Homo sapiens: one gene and its partner. The protein of the gene in region 2 interacts with the protein of the main gene of each other region in a pairwise test. Each region holds a gene or a part of one and is shown on either strand. Other genes may lie near its edges.

Region 1 (7,283 bases), on a different chromosome or scaffold from region 2:
TACAAGTTGAATCTGTCCCCAAGGGGACTCCATTTCTTTGGTGAATTTCTCCTGGAGAATCTGGCACTGTATGGCTAACCCTTCTGTGGGGGATGTTCCCCTGATCCAGGTGGGATCTTTGGAATGACAACATCAACAGTCTTCCCAGCCCTGAGACAGGAGCAAGGTCAGTGACAGGGCTGCACTCGGAGGAGAGCTGAGCCTGTCACCACTGCTGTCAGAGAAAGGCTGGGACCAAGGGGCTTCTCTCAGGTTTTTTTTTTTTTTGAGATGGAGTCTTGCTCCTGTTGCTCAGGCTGGAGTGCAATGCCGCGATCTCGGCTCACTGCAACCTCTGGGTTCAAGTGATTCTCCTGCCTCAGCCTCCCGAGTAGCTGGGGTTACAGGCGTGCACCACCACGCCTGGCTAATTTTTTCATATTTTTAGTAGAGATGGGGTTTCACCATGTTGGTCAGGCTGGTCTCAAACTCCTGACCTCAGATGATCCACCCACCTCGGTCTCCCAAAGTGCTGGGATTACAGGCATGGGCCACTGTGCCTGGACTTCTCTCAGGTCTTCAAAGTCCCCACTCCCTCAAGAGGGATGGCTTACAACAGGGGTGTTCAAGTTTTTGTCATTTCCTGTACCGTAACACCCACACACACACCTGTGTACCTCACATGTAATACTTTAAGATCAACTCACCTTTTTAGAGAAATTGAGATGAAATTCACATAACATAAAATTAACCATTTTAAACTGGACAATTCTGTGGCATTTAGTACATTCATAATGTTGTGCAATCATCACCTCTGTCTAGTTCCAAAACGTTTTAGTCTTTGTTCTGTTTTTGAGACAGGGTCTTATTCTGTCACCCGGGCTGGAGCGCAGTGGCATGATCTTGGCTCACTGCAACTTCTATCTCCCGGGTTCAAGCAATTCTCGTGCCTCAGCCTCCTGAGTAGTGGGATTACAGGTGCGCACCACCACGCCTGGCTAATTTTTATATTTTTAGTAGAGAGGGGGTTTCACCATGTTGGCCAGGCTGGTTTTGAACTCCTGGCCTCAAGTGATCCACCCGTCTCTGCCTCCCAAAGTGCTGGGATTATAGGCATGAGCCACTGTGCCTGGCCAATGTTATTTCTTATATCAGTGTGCACTTAAAAATCATTTTACACCGCATTAGATCTGCAACAGTGATGTCCAATAAAAGTATATTGTGAGGCCAGGTGTGGTGGCTCACGCTGTAATCCCAGCACTTTGGGAGGCTAAGGCAGGTGGGTTGCTTGAGCCCAGGAGTTCAAGACCAGCCTGGGCAACATGGTGAGACCCTGTCTCTACAAAAAATAAGTTGGCTGGGCATGGTGGTGCGCCCCTGTGGTCCCAGCTACACAGGAGGATGAGGCGGGAAGATCACTTGAGTCCAGGAGTTCGAAGCTGCAGTGAGCCATGATCGTTATCACTGCACTGGGTGACAGAGCAAGATCCTGTGTCAAAAAAAAAGTATCTTATGAGACACAACTACAAGCCACACTCCAACTTAAAGTTTCCTAATAGCCACACTACAAAGTAAAAGAAACAAGTAAAATTTTATACAGTAACCCAAAATATTACTTCAACATGTAACCAACATACAAAAATCAATGAGATATTATACATTCTTTTTTTCATAATAAATATTCAGGGCCGGGCGTGGTGACTCACGCGTGCAATCCCAGCACTTTGGGAGGCCAAGGCAGGTGGATCACGAGGTCAGGAGATCGAGACCATCCTGGCTAACACAGTGAAACCCCCTCTCTACTAAAAATACAAAAAAATTAGCTGGGTGTGGTGGTGGGCGCCTGTAGTCCCAGCTACTGGGGAGGCTGAGGCAGGAGAATGGCGTGAGCGCAGGAGGCGGAGCTTGCAGTGAACAGAGATGGCGCCACTGCACTCCAGCCTGGGCGACAGAGCGAGACTCCATCTCAAATAAATAAATAAATACAAATAAATAAAAAATAAATAAATAATAAACAGAATCGGGCTGGGTGCAGTGGCTCACACCTATAATCCCAGCACTTTGGGAGGCTGAGGCAGGTGGATAACCTGAGGTCAGGAGTTCGAGACCAGCCTGGCCAACATGGTGAAACCTGCATCTCTACTAAAAATACAAAAATTAGCAAGGTGTGGTGGGGGGTGCCTATAATCCCAGCTACTCAGGAGGCTGAGGCAGGAGAATCACTTGAACCCGGGAGGCAGAGGTTGTGGTGAGCCAAGATCACGCCACTGTACTCCAGCCTGGGCGACAGAGCGAGACTTCGTCTCAAAAAAAAAAAAAAAAAATCCAATTTGATGATAAGTGCACTTCCTATGGACAGCCCATCTCCTTTCGGACCCAGCCATATTTCAATTTTCAATAGCCACGCGTGGCCAGAGTCTCCTGTGTTGGAGAGCACAGCTCTGTGAGATCCTCTCCAGCTCTAAGATGCTAGGATTCCTTTTCTTTTTCTATCTCCTTCCTTTGCCTTAGCAATCTCTAAATCTGCAGTTCTCAGCCTTTCCTTCTGTCTCAACACACCCAGGATGAGGTTCAGTGGCTTCCTGCTCCCCGGGGCTCATGGAGACCTCGGTCTGAGCTCTCGGTGAGAAAGGCCCTAGGCTGCACGCACTTCTCAGAGCGCTGCCCGGACTCCACCCCATGAAGCACAGCCAATTACAACCACGAAGAATGTTATTCTAGAGCAACCTTGAACCTGGCTAGTTTAGTTGATTTTTAAATTTTTATTTATTTATTTTTTTAAATTTTTATTTTTTGAGACAGAGTCTCTCTCTGTCGCCCAAGCTAGAGTGCAGAAGAGCGATCTCAGCTCACTGCAACCTCCACTTCCCGGGTTCAAGCAATTCTCCTACCTCAGCCTCCCAAGTAGCTGGGATTACAGACAAGCGCCACCCTAACCCTAATTTTTGTATTTTTAGTGGAGACGGGGTTTCTCCATGTTGGCCAGGCTGGTCTTGAACTCCTGGCCTCAGATGATCCGACTGCCTCAGCCTCCCAAAGTGTTAGGATTACAGCATGAGCCACCGCGCCAGGATGAACCTGTCTAGTTTAGTTTAAAATACACTGTAGCAAACATCCGTTGTTTTCTTCCCAGCATCTGCTCCCAGCTTTTCTGGTAACAGAACCCCAAATGTCCTTTGGAAGCCATATCTCCCCAATGCTTGCCTATGTCACTTGGGTGGGTCTGACTCTAGCCCCAGCTGCAGAGGTGGGCATGTGACCCAGGCCCAAGCTGATAAGCAAAACCCATTCCCCAGCCACAGAGATGGGTTGAGAGATATGGCCATTGATACGATGATGGACAGGTCTAGAATCTCCAGGGACAGCTGGAAAGGGAGACTCAGACTTGGGGGGCTGTAAGTGCAGCGCTGCCTCCCGGGCTATGCTGTGGGTCCTGCGAGTGAAGCTGGCACGGCGGGATGCAGAGCCAGGAAGGGAGACTAGGGTGTTGTCCTTTGTCTCTCACTCTGTCGCCCAGGCAGGAGTGCAGTGGCCTCTGTCGCCCAGGAGGGAGTGCAGTGGCACCATCTCAGCTCAGCAACCTCCTCCTCCCAGGTTCAAGAGATTCTTCTGCCTCAGCCTGGCACGAGATTCTCCTGGCCACGCTGGATCTTTTTGGTCAGCCGGACAATACACTGCCCCCCCGCTGTGCACGCATGTGTATGTGTGTATGTGTTTGTGCACATGTGCTTAAGGCACTGAGAACTGTTTCCTGTCAGTTATTTGCAACTGACAGAGTCCTAACATACAAGGAAGTCAGTCACCTGCACCCTTCTCGTGAGTGACAGACTACTTGTGGCCCATCTTGCCACTGATGGTCGCTGCCTTGTGGTTGAGAGCAGCCATCCTAGGGCAGCCTGACTTCATACAGACACCAGAAACACACAAAAAGCCACAACACACAGGTGTAACTCCTTGACCACCTCTGTTCAAGGCTGACACGCAGAGTTGAAGGTGCTTCCGGCTGGGTGTGGTGGCTTCTGGCTGGGTGTGGTGGCTCCCGCCTGTAATCCTAGCACTTTGGGAGGCCAAGGCAGGTGGATCACTTGAGGTCAGGAGTTGGAGACCAGCGTGGCCAACATGGCAAAACCCCGTCTCTACTAAAAATACAAAAAATTAGTTGGGCGTGGTGGTGGGTGCCTATAATCTCAGCTACTCGGGAGGCTGAGGCACAGAAAATCACTTGAACACGGGAGGTGGAGGTTGTGGTGAGCCAAGATCGCACCACTGCACTCCAACCTGGGATACAGAGTGAAACTGTGTCTAAAACAAAACAAAACAAAAAGGCACTTCCTTCCCTAGGGCTGGACTCACTGTGGCACGTGTGTGTCATCCTCCACCGGGCACCAGGCCGCCACCTCACACGTCTTGACAGACCCGTTGAAAGCTACGCACCTGCCTGTTGAGACTCCTACAAGCACAAGGGTGGCAGGGGGGTCCCATGTCCACAGGGGTCTCCTATTTTCTACCTTTTTGGAGTAGGGAGTGAGAGCCCCATCCAGCCTCCCATGCAGCCAGTCTTGAGCTGTGCAAATCTGGGATTTAGACAGTGTCACTGTCCAGGAGTTAGAATCGGAGGAAGACAGTTACCTGTGTGCCAGCCACATCTCAGCCAGGGTGATGCCAAGCTAAAGAATGGGACAAGAGGCCAGGCACAGTGGGTCATGCCTGTAATCCTAGCACTTTGGGAGGCTGAGGCGGGTGGATCACCTGAGGTCAGGAGTTCGAGACCAGCCTGGCCAACATGGTAAAACCCATCTCTACCAAAAGTACAAAAATTAGCTGGGCGTGGTGGTGCATGCCTGTAATCCCAGCTACTCGGGAGGCTGAGGCAGGAGAATTGTTTGAAACTGGGAGGTGGAGGTTGCAGTGAGCCGAGATCATGCCATTGCACTCCAGTTTGGGTGACAGAGCGAGACTCTGGCTCAAAAAAACAAAAAAACAAAACAAAAAAAAAAACAAGAAAAAACAACAACAACAACAAAAAAAAAAACAGTAGGGCAAGAGCTGGGATGGCTTGTGGGGCTCCAATGACAGCAGTGAATGTAGAGGGGCTCCAGGACCCCAGCCTCGGCACCTGGCTCACCCAGGGTCATGTGAAGGAATTGGGAAGATTTCTCTATCAGAGACGCTCCACAGTGGGGGCGATCTGCTCAGGGGCCGCCCTCCCCAGGAGGCCACAAGCTCGTACCGTTGCTGTGGGTGCCGGCAGAGCCGGCAGTACAGCTGGCATCTGATTTACACACAGTGGTCGCATCTGGAATCTGGAAAAAGAAGGAGCGAAAAGAAAGTCCACGTGGCCCGGCCCCACACACAGGTGGACAGGCGTGGAGAGGGGTGTGGGGCCTGGGGCTCTTCCCGGGGGCCTCCTACCTCGGGGCACAGGCCCTGTGTCTGGTTCATGGTGAGGATCACGTTGGTCATGACGAAGAGGGAGTTTTCCTCCTGCAGAGGGGAGACAGCACGGGCAAGCCACGCTCAGAGGACTCACGGAGAGCCAAGAAAGGCAGACGCTGACTGAAGAGGACAACTCAAACACTGACCGCGTGCTCTCCCGCTCTCTCCCATCAAAGTTTATAACCCAATGGAAAACAGTGACTCAAACAAGTCCTTGTACATAAATATTCAGAGCAACACTTTTCACAAGAGCCAAAAGGTGGAAACAGGTCGGGCGCGGTGGCTCAAGCCTGTAATCCCAGCACTTTGGGAGGCTGAGGCGGGCGGATCACGAGGTCAGGAGTTCAAGACCAGCCTGGTCAACACAGTGAAACCCCCGTCTCTACTAAAAATACAAAAATTAGCCGGGTGTGATGGCGGGCACCTGTAGTCCCAGCTACTTGGGAGGCTGAGGCAGGAGAATTGCTTGAACCCGGGAGTCGGAGGTTGCAGCGAGCCGACATCGCGCCACTGCACTCCAGCCTGGATGACACGAGACTCTGTCTCAAAAAAAAAAAAAAAATGGTGGAAACAGCCCAAATGTCTGTCCTAGTCTAGTCACATGATGGAATGTGATTCAGCCATGAATAAAAAGGAATGAAGGGTCCAGGCATGGTGGCTCACACCTGTAATTCCAGCACTTTGGGAGGCTGAGGCAGGAGGATCACCTGAGGTCAAGAATTCCAGATTAGCCTGGCCAACATGGTGAAACTTTGTACTAAAAACACACACACACACACACACACACACACACAAACACACACAGACACACGCACACACAAAAGGAGCCGGGTGTGGTGGCGGGCACCTGTAATCCCAGCTACTCAGGGGGCTGAGCCAGGAGAATCACTGGAACCTGGGAGGTGGAGGTTGCAGTGAGCCGAGATCACGCCAGTGCACTCCAGCCTGGGTGACAGAGTGAGATTTCATCTCAAAAAATAAAATAAAGGAATAAAGCACTGATACAGGCTACAACATGGATGAACCCCAAAAACATGATGCTGAGTGAAAGAAGCCAGACACAAAGGCCACACAGGATACCATTACATTGATGTGAAATTTCCAGAACAGTCAAGTCCATAGAGACAAAGCACTTACGGGTTGCCAGGGAGTGAGAGAAGTGGGGAATGGGGAGTGGTTGTGTAACATACGAGGCTTCCCTTTGGGGTGATGGAAATGTTTTGAACTAGATAGAGGTGATGCTTGCATAACACTGTGAATGCACTAAATGTGCTGAATTTTTCATTTTAAAATGGTTAATTTCTTTCTTATTTATTTATTTATTTGAGACAGAGCCTTGCTCTGTCGCCCAGGCTGCAGGGCAGTGGCACGATCTTGGCTTACTGCAATCTCCGCCTCCTGGGTTCAAGCGATTCTCCAGCCTCACCCTCCTGAGTAGCTGGGACTACAGGTGTACATCACCACACCTGGCTAATTTTTGTATCTTTAGTAGAGATAGGATTTCACCATGTTGGCTAGGCTGGTCTCCAACTCCTGGCCTCAAGTGATCTACCTGCCTCAGCCTCCCAAAGTGCTGGGATTACAAGCATGAGCCACTGTGCCCGACTTAAAATGGTTAGTTTCTATAAGTGAATTTGACTGCAGTTAAAAAAAGGGGGGGGTCTGCAAACTGAAACAATGGTTTCTCAATCAAACTTGACTTACTGAGGGAAAGAGCCAACAAGTGCTAAAAACATTCCCTGCCAACCAGATTATCTCAGAGGAATAAAAACATGAGGCCTCATGGGGCTCAAATCTGGCTGGTTTTCTTTCCTAACTGAAATTATAAATCAAACATTCTAGAGAAGACTCGGTCAGGGTCAGCAAGT
Region 2 (7,283 bases):
CATCAGAAAGAGAAAGCATGTAGAGAGTAAGAGATAGACTTTGTGTTGTGGTAAAAATACACATAGTATAAAATTTACCATTAGTGACATTTAGTATATTCACGATGTTGTGCAACCATCACCAGTATCTAATTCCAGAACACTTTCATCAGTGCTAAAGGAAACACCATACCCATTAAGCAGTTACTTCCCTCTTCTCCATTTCCGCAGCCCCTAGCAACCACCAATCTCTTTTCTGTCTGTATAGATTTGCCTATTGTGGGCCGGGCGCGTGGCTTACCCCTGTAATTCCAGCACGTTGGGAGGCTGAGGCGGGCAGATCACAAGGTCAGGAGATCGATACCATCCTGGCTAACACGGGGAAACCCCGTCTACTAAAAATACAAAAAATTAGCCGGGCGTGGTGGCACGCACCTATAGTCCCAGCTACTCTGGAGGCTGAGGCAGGAGAATTGCTTGAACCTGGGAGGCAGAGGTTGCAGTGAGCCGAGATTGCCCCACTGTACTCCAGCCTGGGCAACAGAGCGGGACTGCGTCTCCCACAAAAAAACAAAACAAAAACAAAAATTTGCCTATTGTGGACATTTCATATAAATAGAATCCTATAATATGTGACATTTTGTCCCTGGTTTCTTTCACTTAGCATAATGTTTTCAGGATTCATCCATATAACAGTACTTTACTCCTTTTTATGGCTGAATAATATTCCATTGTATGGATACAACACATTTTGTTTTTTCCATTCATCAGTTGATGCACATTTGGGTTGCTTACACCTTTTGACTGTTATGAATAGGGCTCCTATAAGCAAAAACATTATGTACATGTTTTTGCTTGAAAACCTGTTTTCAGTGCTCTTGGGTATATACCCAGGAGTGGAATTGCTGGGCCATGTGGTAATTGAGATGAAACATTTAAAGTGAAATCTTACTAAACCAATATGTTGTCCTTTTGGGGAGGTGGGAGTCATATTGTTATTTCTCTTTTGTTTTGATAACATAACACCTGAACTCCCACACCTCCCTAGAAAATGTGGTATGGAAATTTATGCCAGAAGACTATTAGATGGCATCACCAACTCATACCCAACATGAGAACTAAACTTTTTTTATACAAATTGCCAACTGATATAAAGGCAGTTGAAGGTCCCCAACTCTAACAGGTGTACTACTATGTACCTTCAGAAAATGAAGGTTACAGTCAAGTAACCAAAGTGTTTCTGTATAGCTTTGGAGCCAGAAACCTTAGTCAGATTACAGGAGGTTGCCCTTGGGCCACTCACTAAATTTCTCTGTTGTAGTTTCTCCATCTGTAAAATGGGGATAATAATCTCTGCTGCTCAAGATTGACATAAAGATAGGGCATAGCCTGGCACATAGTTGACAATAAATATTAGTCTCTTTTCCCCATATATTCTTATATTCTTCAAATTAATTGCTCTCCAAGATATCACTATTTTTCTTCTCATTTTCTCTTTCAGGCTAAAATTAAATTGCCAAATACAAACCCTTCTGATATTCAAATTGATATCCAGGAAACAATCCTTGACCTTCGTACTCCTCAGAAGTGAGTAAAACTTAGAACTGGAATAGTGTATTATAATATTAAAGAGTCTTCAGTCAATATTATTTTTTAAAATGTACAGTTATTTTGTATCACCCCTAAAGTCTGAAGAAAAGTGGAAAATTTTGTATTCAGATGTTTGATCTACATTAATATAAACATAAATATGTTTGGAAATACTTGGACTTTTTTCTACTTTGCATCCGTGCATTTGGAGTGGGTTAATGCTATTAAAACACAATTCTTGACACCCAGATGCAGTTTATCTATCAGAAAAAATAACTAGAAGTGAAAATGCCATTAAGTTGTAAGTCTTATATGTGGTTTTTGTACATTGATTACATAAGGGAAGCAATATCTTTATACTTTTGTCATTTTGTGGGGCTGTAAGGTTAAATTTGAGTGTTTTCATTTAAATCAACAAAAAGATCTTGCCATCAATTACTATCTAAATACCTCACTGCTTTGTGCACATCTTATCTGGATATAGAGCAGTGAGCACATACTGGTTCACTGCAATGGTCCTAACTCTGTAACTCATGAACATTTCAAACTGGATTTGGGAGGCAGGCAGTTGCTGGCACATTTTCTTCCTTCCATTATCAGTACCTATAATTCTCCTTTGTTGAGCTTAGGACTTCAAGAAAATGACAAGAAGATCCTTCATACAAAAGATTCCTATGTGTAAACAACCCAATATGCATATGTAGCTTAATCTTGGCTTCTATAGTAAATGCATTTAACCCAAAATGGTCTACAGATAAATATATATCAAATGTTTTCTTATTATTTACATCATTTCAAAAATGTATCCTCACAGAACAATCATCTCATGTTATAAAAATTATATTCACTATTTCTGCTGTTTACTTCAAGGAGTATTGTACCCTTTTGTTGCATTTTATACACGAATTTACTCTTCCACATAACCTTTACAAGGAAAATTGGTTAAATGAACAATCTTCCAAGATATTTGCAAGCTTGTTAAAAGCACACACATGTCTACACACCATGGGGTTAATTTCCGTTTCCCTAGCAGTTCTCACTGTCTGTGAGACTTTCATTTAGTGGATTCTGATGGATATCTGTAATGACGGCACAGCCATAGCAGCTACCTAAAGATTGATGGAGACAGCAGAAATACTGAATACAATTTTTATAACATGAGATGTTTGTTCTGTGAGGATACATTTTGGATTAAAAGTACTTTCCCACATAGAACATGGGCTATACACTAGGTCCTTTGGATCATAATGTACTTATATATTAAATGCGCAGTGCAGAGAGGTACCATCTCAAGAAAACCTGCTTAACTAAGATAGAAGACAGAAAATATAATTAAGGATTTTATCATGTTTCCTAAATACTTGAGAATCCTTTAGAGCCATGCTTTTCTCTGAAATTGCATTATCGGGAATGTGTCTTGTTTTCGAGTTTATTGATATTCACACCTACTTTCTTTAGTTTCTAACTTTGACATCATATAACGCTATGTTTATCCAATCTGAGAAAGATTTGAGAGGGCATTCTGTTCTTGTATCTATAAGGCAGAAACAAGCGAATTTATTTTAACTGAATTGACCAGTGGTTTCTGTCAAACAATAGTCAATTTCATTCGAATTACCAATAAAACCCAGGTATTTACCAAAATAAATAAAGCAGTTTACCAAATTCTTCACTTTTTTCAATTGGTTGTTTTGGCATGTAGATACCCAACATGGAGTAAATGGAGAGGAGGAAAGACGGAGAAAATTGGATAATTTACGGGGATCTCTTAAGTCTTCATATGAGATTTCATTATTTTTCTAAGTGAATTCTAAGAATTTCATAAATGAATACCTTGAATGTGATAATAATAACACATTCTAAAGACAAATGTAAGCTAATTTTTGGTTGAGTGCTGCTTTAGATTACTCACACATTTGCTGTGCTCCTTTAGTTTGGATTGGGAATTGACTGATTTTCAAAGACTGATAGCTAAAAAAGAAGTTTTCTAAATGAAATAGTTGAGTTGCAGCTCAGTAGCTATTTCTGCACTTTCTTTGAAAATAGTTATGTCTCCTTCAGTAAACCTTAAAAAGGTTTTTAACCCAGATATGTAAGTCAAATAATTTTGTTAATTATATAAGATAAAAATTTCATTATGCGAATATGCTGGGAACCAGGATGTCCTTTGCTTAAATCTCTTGTGAGCAACATCAACTTAAACTCTCTAATATAAGTATAAGCATGTAAGTCTCTAAACTTGAGTTCACTGTAGAGATTTTTTTTGTATTTACATTCATGTATTATTGTTTGCATTTAATTTCTAATGAAAATTAACACTGGATGAACCTTTGATCACTGCCTAGACTGTAACTTCTGAAAATGCAAATACATTGTCAATGTAAAAGTAGAGGTATTGGGTTTAAATGTTTGTTCATATCTTATAGTACTAATCTATGGTAATTATTCAAATGTTATTTTGTGGTGACCTGAATACTTGCTTCATTTATTTACTCACTCATTCATTTATTTATTCACTCAACATTTATAAAGTCTTCCACTAGACACTAAGGGAGCACCAAGATAAGATACATTAATGTCCTTCCATGAATTGTACATGGATAAGTATTTGGAGAATTTTTATTTTGTTTAAATATAAATCTCAGTACAGATAATAAGACAGTAAAACAGACGACGAAAATATTTCCCTTCTCCTAAGAGCCTAAATCAGTTGTACAGTTCTACTGTTCAACATTTTATTATGTGAAGCCATACTACTTAGAACTACACAGAAATGCAGGCGTAGATGGATCATTCCAATGGCCACTAACTGTCTCTTTTGAATTTATTTCTCTCTGGACAGAGAAGTGCACATTATCATTGGAACTCCTTCTTCAGCTGATTTATAGTTGTCTTTTAGTGCAACGAAGCTACCATACTAAGCTTTGCTTTCTTTTAAAAGTGAATATATTATCATTTATTGAATAAAGTATAAAGGAAATCTAAGTCTAGCACAACCTATATAGTAAACAGATTTAAAGGATGGACTCTACACGGTTTTTGCACTCACTTTTTTTTTCCTGAGATGCCAAATATTACAGTCTACATTAAAATGCATTGCCACTACGTTTGGCAACGTATTCAGGCGAAGTGTTTTTCCTACCCCACATGGAATGGAACAAGAGTCACAGAAAATTTATCCTTCAGGTTCCATAAATGTGTAATAAATACTTTTAATGAACCCAGTCTTCTGAACTCAGGTTTTTGCAAAGGAATAAAGAAGGAATTGATTTTCAAGGGTTTTGTTTTCAAATACATACTAGTTCTCAATTCAAGAACCCAATAAGTGCCCCTAAAAATACCATATTCCTTTACTTATTTGGATATTATACCTTCTAAAAGAGCATCCTGTCCACCTTTTATAGAGATACTCAGACCTTCTCTACTGAAAATGCGAGGTAACAAGTGTTTCATGCATTTAATTTTCTTCCAAAACCAGCATGTGCTGACCCCGTGCATAATTTAGATTCATGCCAATATGGCAGAATTATGGATGTCTCATCCCAGCAATGCATCTAAAGCATAAAACTATCCAGCAACTGAACTATAAACCACAAAATAAACCTAGCAATCTATCACAGGGAATTTTTGTCAATGTGTAAGTAGAAAGAATCAGAAGCAAGGAGAGAGAAGCACTTTCATTGATTTGGTATTGAAATCATTCCCAGCCTCAGTTTCAAAAACTACACCTGTGGTAGAGACTCTGCTTAAATCTATGTTAGCAGAAGTGTCATAGAGCCATTCCAATTTTCAAATTTGTATCCGTCGGCCACATTGCATCTATACATAAGTATGAGTGGCAACAGATCTGTCCAGCAAACTTAAAAGTTGCATAGTTCTATTTCTATGCCTGTAAACATAGCCTGAGACTATGTAAAATGAGGTCAATTCGGAGAAAAATAGGGGCGCCAAAACAACTGCTTGGATTTTTAAGTCCAGAAAAACTGGTATACTGTTTGTGTTATTTAGGCATATTTTTGATCCAATATTTACACTATCTAAATATTGGGGGGGGGTTGTTTTCTAACACTCTAGTGGCATATGTTGTTTGCAATTGTCTTATTGAAAGTGATACATCATTTTAGGAAGCTAAGGTTTTATTTTGTTGTTTTTTTTTAGGAAGCTGTTGATAACTCTTCCTGAGCTGGTGGAATGTACCAGTGCCAAAGCATTCTATATCCCAGAGACTGAAACTCTTGAAATCACTATGACTATGAAAAGAGAGTTAGATATTGCTAATTTCTTCTGAAACTGCATGAAAAAGATAAAAAGTAGTAAAATGGCATTGGTAACAATTAAAAAACTTTGAAAAAAATGATTGTTTTCTATATTCTCTTTATTATTCTGACATATTTTTGAAAGGGACAAAATTCAGTTCTAGTGATATTGTGACCATTTACAGTAATTTCTATTACTCTGTTAGGAAATATGTTTCCTTGGCCAGGTGCAATGGCTCATGCCTGTAATCCCAACACTTTGGGAGGCCGAAGCAGGCGGATCACTTGAGGTCAGGAGTTTGAGACCAGCCTGGTCAACATGGCGAAACCCTGTCTCTACTAAAAATACGAAAATTAGCCTGGCGTGGTGGCAGGTGCCTGTAATCCCAGCTACTCTGTCTCAAAAAACAAACAAAAAAAGGAAATATGTTTTCTTATGTAAATAAACTATTCTATTTTTATAGTGATAGCTGAGTAGAATCTTTACAGGTTAAAAAATTAGAATATTTCATGGTCAATTACATAATTGAAATATGATCATGAAATGGTTGGTCCACTTACTTCAGTAGTCTGAAAAACTTATGCTAATTATTTACATTTACACTGTGATACAATCAGTTGCATAGCAATTGGTCATTATTATTACCAGAGAATTTTATTTGGTTGCTTTTTCATTGATTTGAGCAAATGATTTACAGTGTTCTCTGTTTAGGCTCTCACTGTTGTTCTGGAATATACAGGTAATAAATAGTTTGATGTACCATACTATCAACATATTTACTTGAGTAAGGAACACTTTTGTGCGTACAGTATTATTTGGCTTCTTCAGTTGTGCTTTTAATGCTTGGATATAGTTAGGTTAAAAACATTTTTTATATGCACTAATAATTATTAGCATTGCCTTTTTGGGTACTGTATTTATATGTAGTCAATTGAAATCCTTGACTTTAAAATAAATTTAAAGTGTGGCACATTTACAAATCCTGTTTGCTCTCATTTCCTATCTTTCTTCTTAAATAGACATATCTCTTTTAGGAATTGTCTCAATGTCCCCTCCTTCTTCTATACTGTATTGCATATGTTTATTTTGGAATTATTTATGAATACATTATAAAGCTTGTGTGACTTGGCTTCATACATTATTTTAGAACTGTGGAGTTACCAAGGAGTAAATTTTGAAAAGATGAACAATGAAAAGATGTTCATCACTTCTATATGAACTATTAAGGGAATAAATAGCAGATATTTTCTAGAGTTAATTATATATATACAACTATGAAGCATCTAGTTTGTGACTAGATGAAATGATGAAATAGAATGAAAAGACTGAGATTTTGGAAAAAAAAATGGTTGTGTTAGAACACTAAGCTCTTACAGAGAATTTGACATTTAAGCTACCAACACGACTTTCTTCTATGGGGGCAAAAGTTGAGGGTGGGATTAGCTGAAAGGAAGCTA

Evidence for each region.
Region 1: the proteins of DNAAF6 (region 2) and P2RX4 interact in binary tests that used the Homo sapiens proteins (3 or more experiments, as listed by UniProt).

What each region holds. Positions count from the first base shown.
Region 1 is NC_000012.12:121,220,093-121,227,375, reverse strand, and holds part of P2RX4 (P2X purinoceptor 4), read right to left. Parts: intron 5,464-7,283; coding exon 5,392-5,463; intron 5,283-5,391; coding exon 5,210-5,282; intron 4,647-5,209; exon of another isoform or gene 4,609-4,646; intron 4,430-4,608; coding exon 4,333-4,429; intron 1-4,332. UniProt on the Homo sapiens protein: ATP-gated nonselective transmembrane cation channel permeable to potassium, sodium and calcium. CTP, but not GTP or UTP, functions as a weak affinity agonist for P2RX4.
Region 2 is NC_000023.11:107,237,442-107,244,724, forward strand, and holds the end of DNAAF6 (dynein axonemal assembly factor 6), read left to right. Parts: intron 1-1,480; coding exon 1,481-1,566; intron 1,567-5,727; coding exon 5,728-5,857; 3' UTR 5,858-6,806; downstream 6,807-7,283. UniProt on the Homo sapiens protein: Plays a role in cytoplasmic pre-assembly of axonemal dynein.